Regions from separate parts of the Homo sapiens genome. Here region 1 is linked to region 2. The links come from fine-mapping of genetic effects on gene expression. A gene starts in region 2. The other region holds a variant in brackets. All regions are shown on one strand. Distances are between the middles of the regions. Region 1 has its middle 12 kb from the start of NUMB. Region 2 holds the start of RIOX1 (ribosomal oxygenase 1).

The links. PIP is the estimated chance that this variant, and not a neighbour inherited with it, causes the effect.
Region 1: its variant is fine-mapped to the expression of RIOX1 in tibial nerve (GTEx, PIP above 0.99).

Annotation. Positions count from the first base shown.
Region 1 is chr14:73,468,743-73,473,130 of GRCh38, reverse strand. No RefSeq gene overlaps it. Among named protein-coding and RNA genes, the nearest start is that of NUMB, 12 kb to the right of the region's middle. The variant A/G (reference allele first, on the strand shown) is at 2,571.
Region 2 is chr14:73,488,747-73,493,134 of GRCh38, reverse strand. It overlaps RIOX1 (ribosomal oxygenase 1), which reads right to left and starts at 2,202. Exons shown (of 1, transcript NM_024644.5): 1 at 1-2,202. The coding sequence starts at 2,117. The coding sequence ends at 192. It overlaps HEATR4 (HEAT repeat containing 4), which reads left to right. Exons shown (of 18, transcript NM_001220484.1): 17 at 11-69. It also overlaps a transcript of ACOT1 not described here. RefSeq lists enhancers at 737-1,237, 2,426-2,535, 2,217-3,122 and a silencer at 1,586-1,875.

The DNA of each region.
Region 1 (4,388 bases), 20 kb after region 2:
AATTTCCTAACGCTTCTGAGTTTGAGACTCCCCTAGACAGAAGCTAAGTGGAGCACATCAGACTTCCAAAAGCCTCTGCAAAGCAACGTGGTATTGTGGGAAAATGGTAGATGCAAGTTCAAATAACCTACTGCTAATAATAAATGTGTGACTTTGTGAAAATTACTTTATCCTTCTGACTTTTACTTTCATCATTTGTAAAACGAGAAGAAGACTATCTCATGGGTCTCTTGCATGTGGTTCCCAACCAGGCTGCATGTTAAAATCGCAGTTTAAAAATGTGACAGCCTGAGTCACACCTCCTGCAAGTTAAATTGGTGTCTCCAAGGGTGAGATCCAGACACCAGTAGATTTTTAAAGCTTCACACGTCATTCTAATCTGCATCCAGGATTGAAAATCACTCGTGAAGCCAGGTGCGGTCGCTCACGCCTGTAATCCTAGAACTTTGGGAGGCTGAGGCAGGAGGATCACCTAAGGTCGGGAGTTCGAGACCAGCCTGATCAACATGGTGAAACCCCCATCTCTACTAAAAATACAAAAATTAGCCGTGCGTGGTGGCCAGCATCTGTAGTCCCAGCTACATGGGAGGCTGAGGCAGGAGAATTGCTTGAACCTGGGAGGCGGAGGTTGCAGTGAGCCAAGATCGCGCCACTGTACTCCAGCCTGGACGATAGAGTGAGACTCCGTTTCAAAAAAAAAAAAAAATCACTGGTGAGAATTAAATAATGTTACTGTACTTATGTAAATCAGGTGCCCTGTTAGTTCCTAGTCATTCCTCAATTTAAATTTCAAACCAGCAATTGACTGTGCTTTTGGTGTGTGTTCTAAAATTTTACCACTAGATGTCACTTTGACCATACAAGTTGGTTCTTGGAAGCTTCTGCTTCTCCGTTCTCAGAGTAACAACCATACAGCATCACCACAACCATTTGTTGAGCACCTGCTGAATGCCAGGCAGAGTGCCAATTTTCTTTCTTTTTTTTTTGAGACAGGGTCTCACTCTGTCGCCCAGGTTGGAGTGCAGTGGTGCAATCATGGCTCACTGTAGGCTTGACTTCCTGGGCTCAAAAATGATCCTCTTTCCTCAGCCTTCCCAGTAGCTGGGACTATAGGCACGCGCTCACCGCACCCAGCTAGTTTTTAATTTTTTTGTGGAGATGAGGTCTCCCTCTGTTTCCCAGGCTGGTCTCAAACTTGTGGGCTCAAGTGATCCTCCCATCTCAGCCTCCCAAAATGTTGGGATTACAGGCCACCATGCCCAGCTGCCAGTGATTCTTAGAACACATGACCTCCAGTCACATAACAACAAATAAGCAAGGTAGTTGTTATCCCAGTCATGAAAAAAGGGTTACAAATAATCTGTGACTTGTACAAAGATACACAGTTAGTGGCAGAACTGGGATTCCAGCTTCATTCATTCATTCACTCATTCAAAAACACTGAACAGGCTGGGTGCGGTGGCTCATGCCTGCAATTACTTCACTTTGGGAGGCCGAGGTGGGAGGATCAAGACCAGCCTAGGCAACATAGTGAGACTCCATCTCTACCAAAAAAAAAAAAAAATACAAAAATTAGCCAGGCATGATGGCACATGCCTGCAGTCCCAGCTACTCAGAGGCTGAGGTGGGAGGATCACTTGAGCTCAGGAGGCAGAGGTTACAGTGAGCCGAGATGGGGCCACTGCACTCCAGCGTGGGTGACAGAGCCAGACCCTGTCTCAAAATTAATTAATTAATTAAAATTTAAAAACACTGGGCCAGGCGCGGTGGCTCACGCCTGTAATCCTAGCACTTTGGGAGGCCGAGGCAGGTGGATTGCCTGAGATCAGAAGTTTGAGACCAGCCTGGGCAACATGGTGAAACCCCATCTCTACTAAAATACAAAAAATTAGCCGGGTGTGGTGGCAGATGCCTGTAGCCCCAGCTACTCGGGAGGCTGAGGCAAGAGAATTGCTTGAACCTGGGAGGCAGAAGTTGCAGTGAGCTGAGATCGCGCCACTGCACTCCAGCCTGTGACAGAGTGGGACTCTGTCTCCAAAAAAAAAAAAAAAAAATTTAAAACACTGAACACTTACTATGTGCAAGGTACTGTACCTGGTACTGGAAATTCAAAGATGAATATAGCATAGTTCTCATTCTCCAGATGTTCTTTTTTTTTTTTTCTTGAGACAGAGTTTCGATCTTGTTGCCCAGGCTGGAGTGCAATGGCGCAATCTTGGCTCACTGCAACCTCTGCCTCCTGGGTTCAAGCGATTCTCCTGCCTCAGCCTCCTGAGTAGCTAGGATTACAGGCATGCACCAGCACGCCCGGCTAATTTTGTATTTTTAGTAGAGACGGGGGTTTCCTCCATGTTGCTCAGGCCGGTCTTGAACTCCTGACCTCAGGATCTGCCTGCCTTGGCCTCCCAAAGTGCTGGGATTACTGGCGTGAGCCAACGTGCCCAGCCAGAAGTTCATTTTTAACCTTCACTTGTAGGTACATTTGAGAAGAAAAGGTAGGCACTTTTTTTATAGTTGTTCTTGGCCCCAGGGTAGCTCGGTCTTCGAAAGAACTTAAATGTTGTGTTCCT[A/G]AGAGGGTAGGATGACCCTTAGGTAGAGTTTTACACTGTATCCAGCCACTATGATAAAAGAATATTTTTGAGAGCTTATTAGGTAACTAAGAAGCTAGAGATCACATCTGGTCTGTTTTATCACTGCCTTATTTAATTATTTATATCCTCAGCAACAAACTATTGGCATTGGGTATGTAACTAATTTTTAATCAATAAATGTTTACTGAATAAACGAATTCCTAGTACTGTGTTAAACATTGTGCAAAAAGAGCCGTGACAGAAATATGTAAAGAAGCCTGCATCTGCCTAGGCGCGGCGGCTCATGCCTATAATCCCAGCAATATGGGAGCCTGAGGTGGGTGGATCACTTGAGGTCAGGAGTTCGAGACCAGCCTGGTCAATATGGGGAAACCCCATTTCTGCTAAAAGTACAAAAATTAGCTGGGCGTGGTGGTGCCTGCCTGTAATCTCAGCTACTCAGGAGGCTGAGGCAGGAAAATCGCTTGAACCCAGGAGGTGGAGACTGCAGTGAGCCGAGATCATGCCATTGCACTCCAGCCTGGGGAACAAAGAGAGATTCCATCTCAAAAAAAAAAAAAAAAGAGAAGAAAAGAAAAAAGAAGTCTGCATCTTATTCTTATAAGCAAATCTGAATATTTCCTTCCAAAAGTAGTACCTTGTTTTAAGTGCCTCCGCTGATTCATCCCTAAGGTGGGAAAGACTTAGAGATCTTGGAGAAGACTCTAAATGAGCCAGGGACCAGAGCATTATTATACTGCTTGATTTGATCTGTAGATTCAGGGTCTAATGACTGCTCTGGAGTTTGTTCTTATGTTGCAGGTATACAGCTGTATCTGTTTGAGTTGTCATTCATCAACCAAGCAGTTTGACAATTAGGACCGTAAGGATGACCAGGCTGGGTCAGACCTATCCAGCAGGTTAAAGGTTATTCAAGTTATTCAAGTAGTGGTCCTCAAACCTGGTTATAAATCAGAATCACCTGGGGGAGCTTTGCAACTATATACAGACCCCACTCCAACCTACTGAGTTGGAATACTAGGACCTAGGAGAGAGACATGAGACTTTCACATAGGACTAGGGTTGAAAATGAGTAGTTCAAGATCCATCCAGTTTTACTCATATATGGCTCTGCAATTCATAAATGTTGCCCTGATTTTTTTTCTGTATTCTGATTGTATTCCCTCCCTGGGTAATGAGTGCCATGCATTTACTACCTACAGTTTGGAGTAGTCTTCCTTTATATTGGTCCTAAGCTTAACTCTCCTGGAACTTTGTAAGAGACATTGAAACCTAAGATTTGGGGATTTGAGAGATGAGTTCATGTTGATCTTACGCATGCCACTTGTAATATTATAGGTTGAGCTCTCCCACAGAGCTTGCTTAGCAGTCACATGCCCATTCTTGAGATTTTTCTTATTTCACAAGGAGCTCTGGCTTTATCGAGATCCATTCTGCACCATCTAGACAACCTTTGTCCACTTCGTGCAATAGGAGAAAAATAATATCTGTTCCTCTGATGATTGTGACCCAGGATGATTGCAGCTTAGGTCATTCAGGACAGGTAAGCACTTATTGCCAGCTTAGATTAAAGTCCTGTTCTGAGTCTAGTTAGCCTGTTAGCTTTGGAGAGACCAGGAAGGGAAATATTCTTGCATTTAAGGGCTCAAACACAAATGTATTCATTTGGAATGATAATCTAGATGGTTCATAGAACAGAGACCAGAAGAGGGAGTCAAGTGGAAGTATTTGTGGTAAAGTATAGAAGGGAATAAATAGAGAAGGAAAATACTAGGGTCATGTGCCTATGTACCTGCC
Region 2 (4,388 bases):
TTGTACCTAGATGAGATGGTTCTTCCTAGAAGACCTTCCGAGGTTTGTGACACTGAAGCAGTGATAAAGGTAAATGTGAGCACACTGATGCTTATCAAGGTAAGAACGTGAGTTTAAGGAAAAAAAAAAAAAAAAGGTAGCAGTGGCAGCGGAGAATCACTACTGCCTTGTTTCCAGCAATCAACAAGAAACTAATTTAGGGCTAGAGGCATCTTAGTGAGCAGCAGCCCCTTATCATACAACGTGGTTGCCAAGGACAGCTGGTCCTCCACACTGTCACAGGGCAGGTCCCCCACTCTCACAAACTCTGGATAAGAACCAAGCAACAGTTCCATGGCATCAGCTTGCTGGGGGTATATTTCCAAGCACTTGGGTTCTTCCAGATGATACACACGGGAGTTTTCCACTGTGTAATAGAGAAACAAATGGCCCCCCTCACCCACCAGCCGAGCTATCCCATCCTGAAGCATATGGACTTCTGTTTCTGTTGTCAACTGGGCCCCCACGTTTACAGGTTCTCCAGCCTCCCAGCGAATTGGAAGCCCGTAAACACTTAGTGCCCTCTCCCTATCAGTCAAAACAGGGGGCAGAGAATCGTGAATGAAGTCTTTGGCTCGCTGGTCGGCCACAGCATCAACAGGAGCAAAGTGTCCCAGGCGGGCAACCAAGACCCGCACCTTCTCCATGAAAGCGGTTCTTCGCGGATCCTTAGAATCTGAATGCTGGGCCCCCATGTAATCCATGAAGTCTCGGGGCAGACCCCTCCGAAACTCCACATTTTCTTCCATTGCAGCCTGCACTGCCAGAGGCAGTATGGCCTCTAAGAAGTCACCCCAGGTATTGCGCTGGTACGTGGACAAGGTGAGGTGCAGAGAGTGGACTCCATCCTGGCATTCAGCTTGGTGAATGAAGCCCCGAGGAAAATACAGCAAATCTCCAGGTTCCAGCACGGTCTGCAGCACCGGCTCACCGAGGTCGTCCTGACTGAAGTTGGGGCTGGATGTCAGAGCCAGTTCCTCGGTTGGGACTCGGGGTCGGTATACACGCCAGAGTTTCCTACCTTCCAGCTGCAGCACGAAGGCCTCGATGTCGTCGTAGTGGGGGGCAAAGCCCTGCGAGTTAGGGGGCGTGAGGTAAACGTTGGAGCCTGCCATGCTTCCAAACTGCTCTTGAAGCACAGCCAAAAACTGCCACACAGTAGTAGAGAAAGCCTGCGGACAGAGGAGACGCAGGGAGCAGCCGGCCTGGTACAGGGACCACGCGGCGGCGGGCAGCGCGCGGCCGGGTGGGTTCAGGGTCTCGCGTCGTCCGTTGATGTAGCGAGCGGCGTCCAAATGCTGGCCGAACTGCACCTCCTCGTTGCGCAGCATCGAATCCAGGTCAGCGGTAGAGAAAAGTCCCTGGTAGTAGGTGTGGTCCTGCCGCCGCACCAGCACCGCCTCGCGCTCCCATAGGCGCCGGTAAAAGTGATCTGGCGGCATGGGCGCGATGAGCCACTCAAAGAGGCGGGCCGCTCGCCGCCGGCTGCTGGGGATGCGGTTCAGCTCGGCCAAGACGCGCCGCAGCGGGGAGTCCCAGGCCGGCTCCCCACCCGTGTTATCCACCTGCGGCCCCGACGCCGTCGCAGGGGCCCCGGACGACTGGACGGCCGCTAAGTGTTGCGCGGTGCACAGCAGGGCCGAGGTCTCCACCACCCGGACCGGCGCGGCGGGCACCTCCACCAGGCGCGCGGGCGGCGCGGAAGCGGGCACCAGGCGCGCCGACGGGGTCTGCAGGGAGCGCGCGGCGGGCGAGGCCTCCAGCAGCTCTGCGGGCCCCAGGTGGCCGTATGGCTCTCGCCGGGCTGCGTCCGGGACGGCCGCCACCGCCGCCCCACCGGGTAGCGCGTCCCCCAGGTCGTCGGCCGTCGACTCCACCCTCGATTCCTCCGAGTTCTCGCTAGGCAGCGTCTGCGTCCTCAGCGCTGCCATGCGGGATACAACACTTCGCAGCTGCTTTCGTATCTTCCTGGACCTCAAGGGCAGGGCCAGGACCGACCCGCTGTGTGGCTGGGGCTTGCGCCGGCGCTTCGGCCGCCCGCGCCTCAACGGCCCTGCACTGGCCTGGAGCCCATCCATGGCCAGACCACACCAGTCTTCCCCGCCCGGCCGGCCGGGGGCGAAGCTAAAGCGGTTCCTGAATGCAGCGGCTGCGGTGCACTCTGGGAAGGGGGCGCGGCCTCCAGCCACCTCGGGGTTGGCCACGCCCATCATTCTTCTATTCGGCCCCTCCCGCTCTCTTTCATTAAATGTTTGGCTTCAAGCTGTAGCGGCAGCGGCAAGAACCCTTGCCAAACAAACAAGGAATCTACACTCAGAGAGCAATTTAAAAATCAAGTTGCGGCCAAGCGCGGTGGTTCACGACTGTAATCCTAGCACTTTCGGAGGCCGAGGTGTGTGGATCACCTGAGGTCAGGAGTTCGAGACCAGCCTGACCAGTATGGTGAAACCCCGTCTGTACTAAAACTACAAAAATTGGCCGGGCGCGGTGGCTCCGCCTGTAATCCCAGCACTTTGGGAGGCCGAGGCGGGCGGATCACGAGGTCAGGAGATCGAGACCATCCTGGCTAACACGGTGAAACCCCGTCTCTACTAAAAAAGAAAAATACAAAAAACTAGCCGGACGTGGTGCTGGGCGCCTGTAGTCCCGGCTACTCGGGAGGCTGAGGCAGGAGGATGGCGTGAACCCGGGAGGCAGAGCTTGCAGTGAGCCGAGATGGCGCCACTGCACTCCAGCCTGGGCGACAGAGCGAGACTCCGCCTCAAAAAAATAAAAATAAATAATAATTTAAAAATTACAAAAATTAGCCAGGTGTGGTGACTTGCACCTGTAGTCCCAGCTACTCGGGAGGCTGAGACAGGAGAATTGCTTGAACTCGGGAGGTGGAGGTTGCAGTGAGCCGAGATCGTACCATTGCACTCCAGCCTGGGCGACAGAGTGAGACTCTTGTCTCAAAAAACAAGAAGAAGCACAAAATCAAGTTACTAGAGACTCCCCAGGAGAAATGGCTACTTGACTGTTTTTTCCTTCTAGTCTCTGCACATTGCAGTGTTCCTTGGATGTCCTCATTTCTAAACAGGATGTTCCACCGGCAGGTTCCCACCAAAAAGTGCAGAATTCTTCTTTTCAAGGAATGCCCCCAGGCAGTTTGAGTTCCGCAGAAACTTCTGCTCTGCAGATGAATTCACTGATTGAAGCCTTATCTAGGAGTTCCTCCACCTAACTTCTCTCCCTCTTTTCTCCAATACAAATTCTCAAATTCATTGTCCTCTCTCTGAAAAATAAGTTAAGAATTTCTCTACTTGCATTCTTGATATCTGCCCTTCCTGCCCCTCTGGGATTTTGTTTCTTTAGCTACAACTTCTTTGGCTCTTAAACTCAGGATCTTAAATCGGCTTCTAATTTAACAGGCAATGTGGTGGCATGCGGGTGTAATTTTTGAGAACGTGGTCACTGTCTGTCATGCAACTAATTGCTTTGTACATAAAGATTCCTTGTCTTCATTTGAATCATTTAAGATAAACTCCCAGAAATAAAAGTGCTGGGTCAAAAAGTAAGATACTTTTTGTGATTATTAATAGGTTTTACCAAACTGCCTTCCAAGAGGGTTTACAATGTTTCAAGCAATGATAAGCATATTAGACTACAGTACATGGCCTCTAGGACCTTTCTCTGTTTGAGCTTTCAACACTCCCTCTTTCTCAGTTGCAAGCCTATCCAAACACTTGCCAAGGCTTTTAGATTTTGTCCTTACCCATGTCTAACATCCACCCTTTTTTATTTCTCACATGGTCTGTTACACACACAGTTATCAACTGGGGGTGATATTGTCTCCATAGGGACATTTGGCAATGTCATATAGGGGGCTAGGGGTTGTCTAACATCTAGTAAACAGACACTAGAGACACTACTAAACATTCTACAATACTAAGGACAACCCTCCCACAACAAATAATTGTCTGATGCAAAATGTCAGTAGTGTAGTGTTGAGGCAGACAAATCCTGGTTTATTACAAATAGCCTCCCAACTAGTCTCTTTACCTTTATTTTTTATTTTTATTTTATTTTTTTGAGACAGGGTCTTGCTGTGTTACCCCAACCTCTGTGTTGCAATGGCCCAATCTTGGCTCACTGCAACCTCCACCTCCCAGGTTCAAGCGATTCTCCTGCCTCAGCCTCCCAGGTAGCTGGGATTACAGGCACCTGCTACCACCGAAGCTAATTTTTGTATTTTTAGTAGAGACAGGGTTTCACCATGTTGGTCAGGCTGGTCTCGAATTCCTGACCTCAGGTGATCCACCTATCTCGGCCTCCCAAAGTGCTGGGATTACAGGCATGAGCCGCGGTGC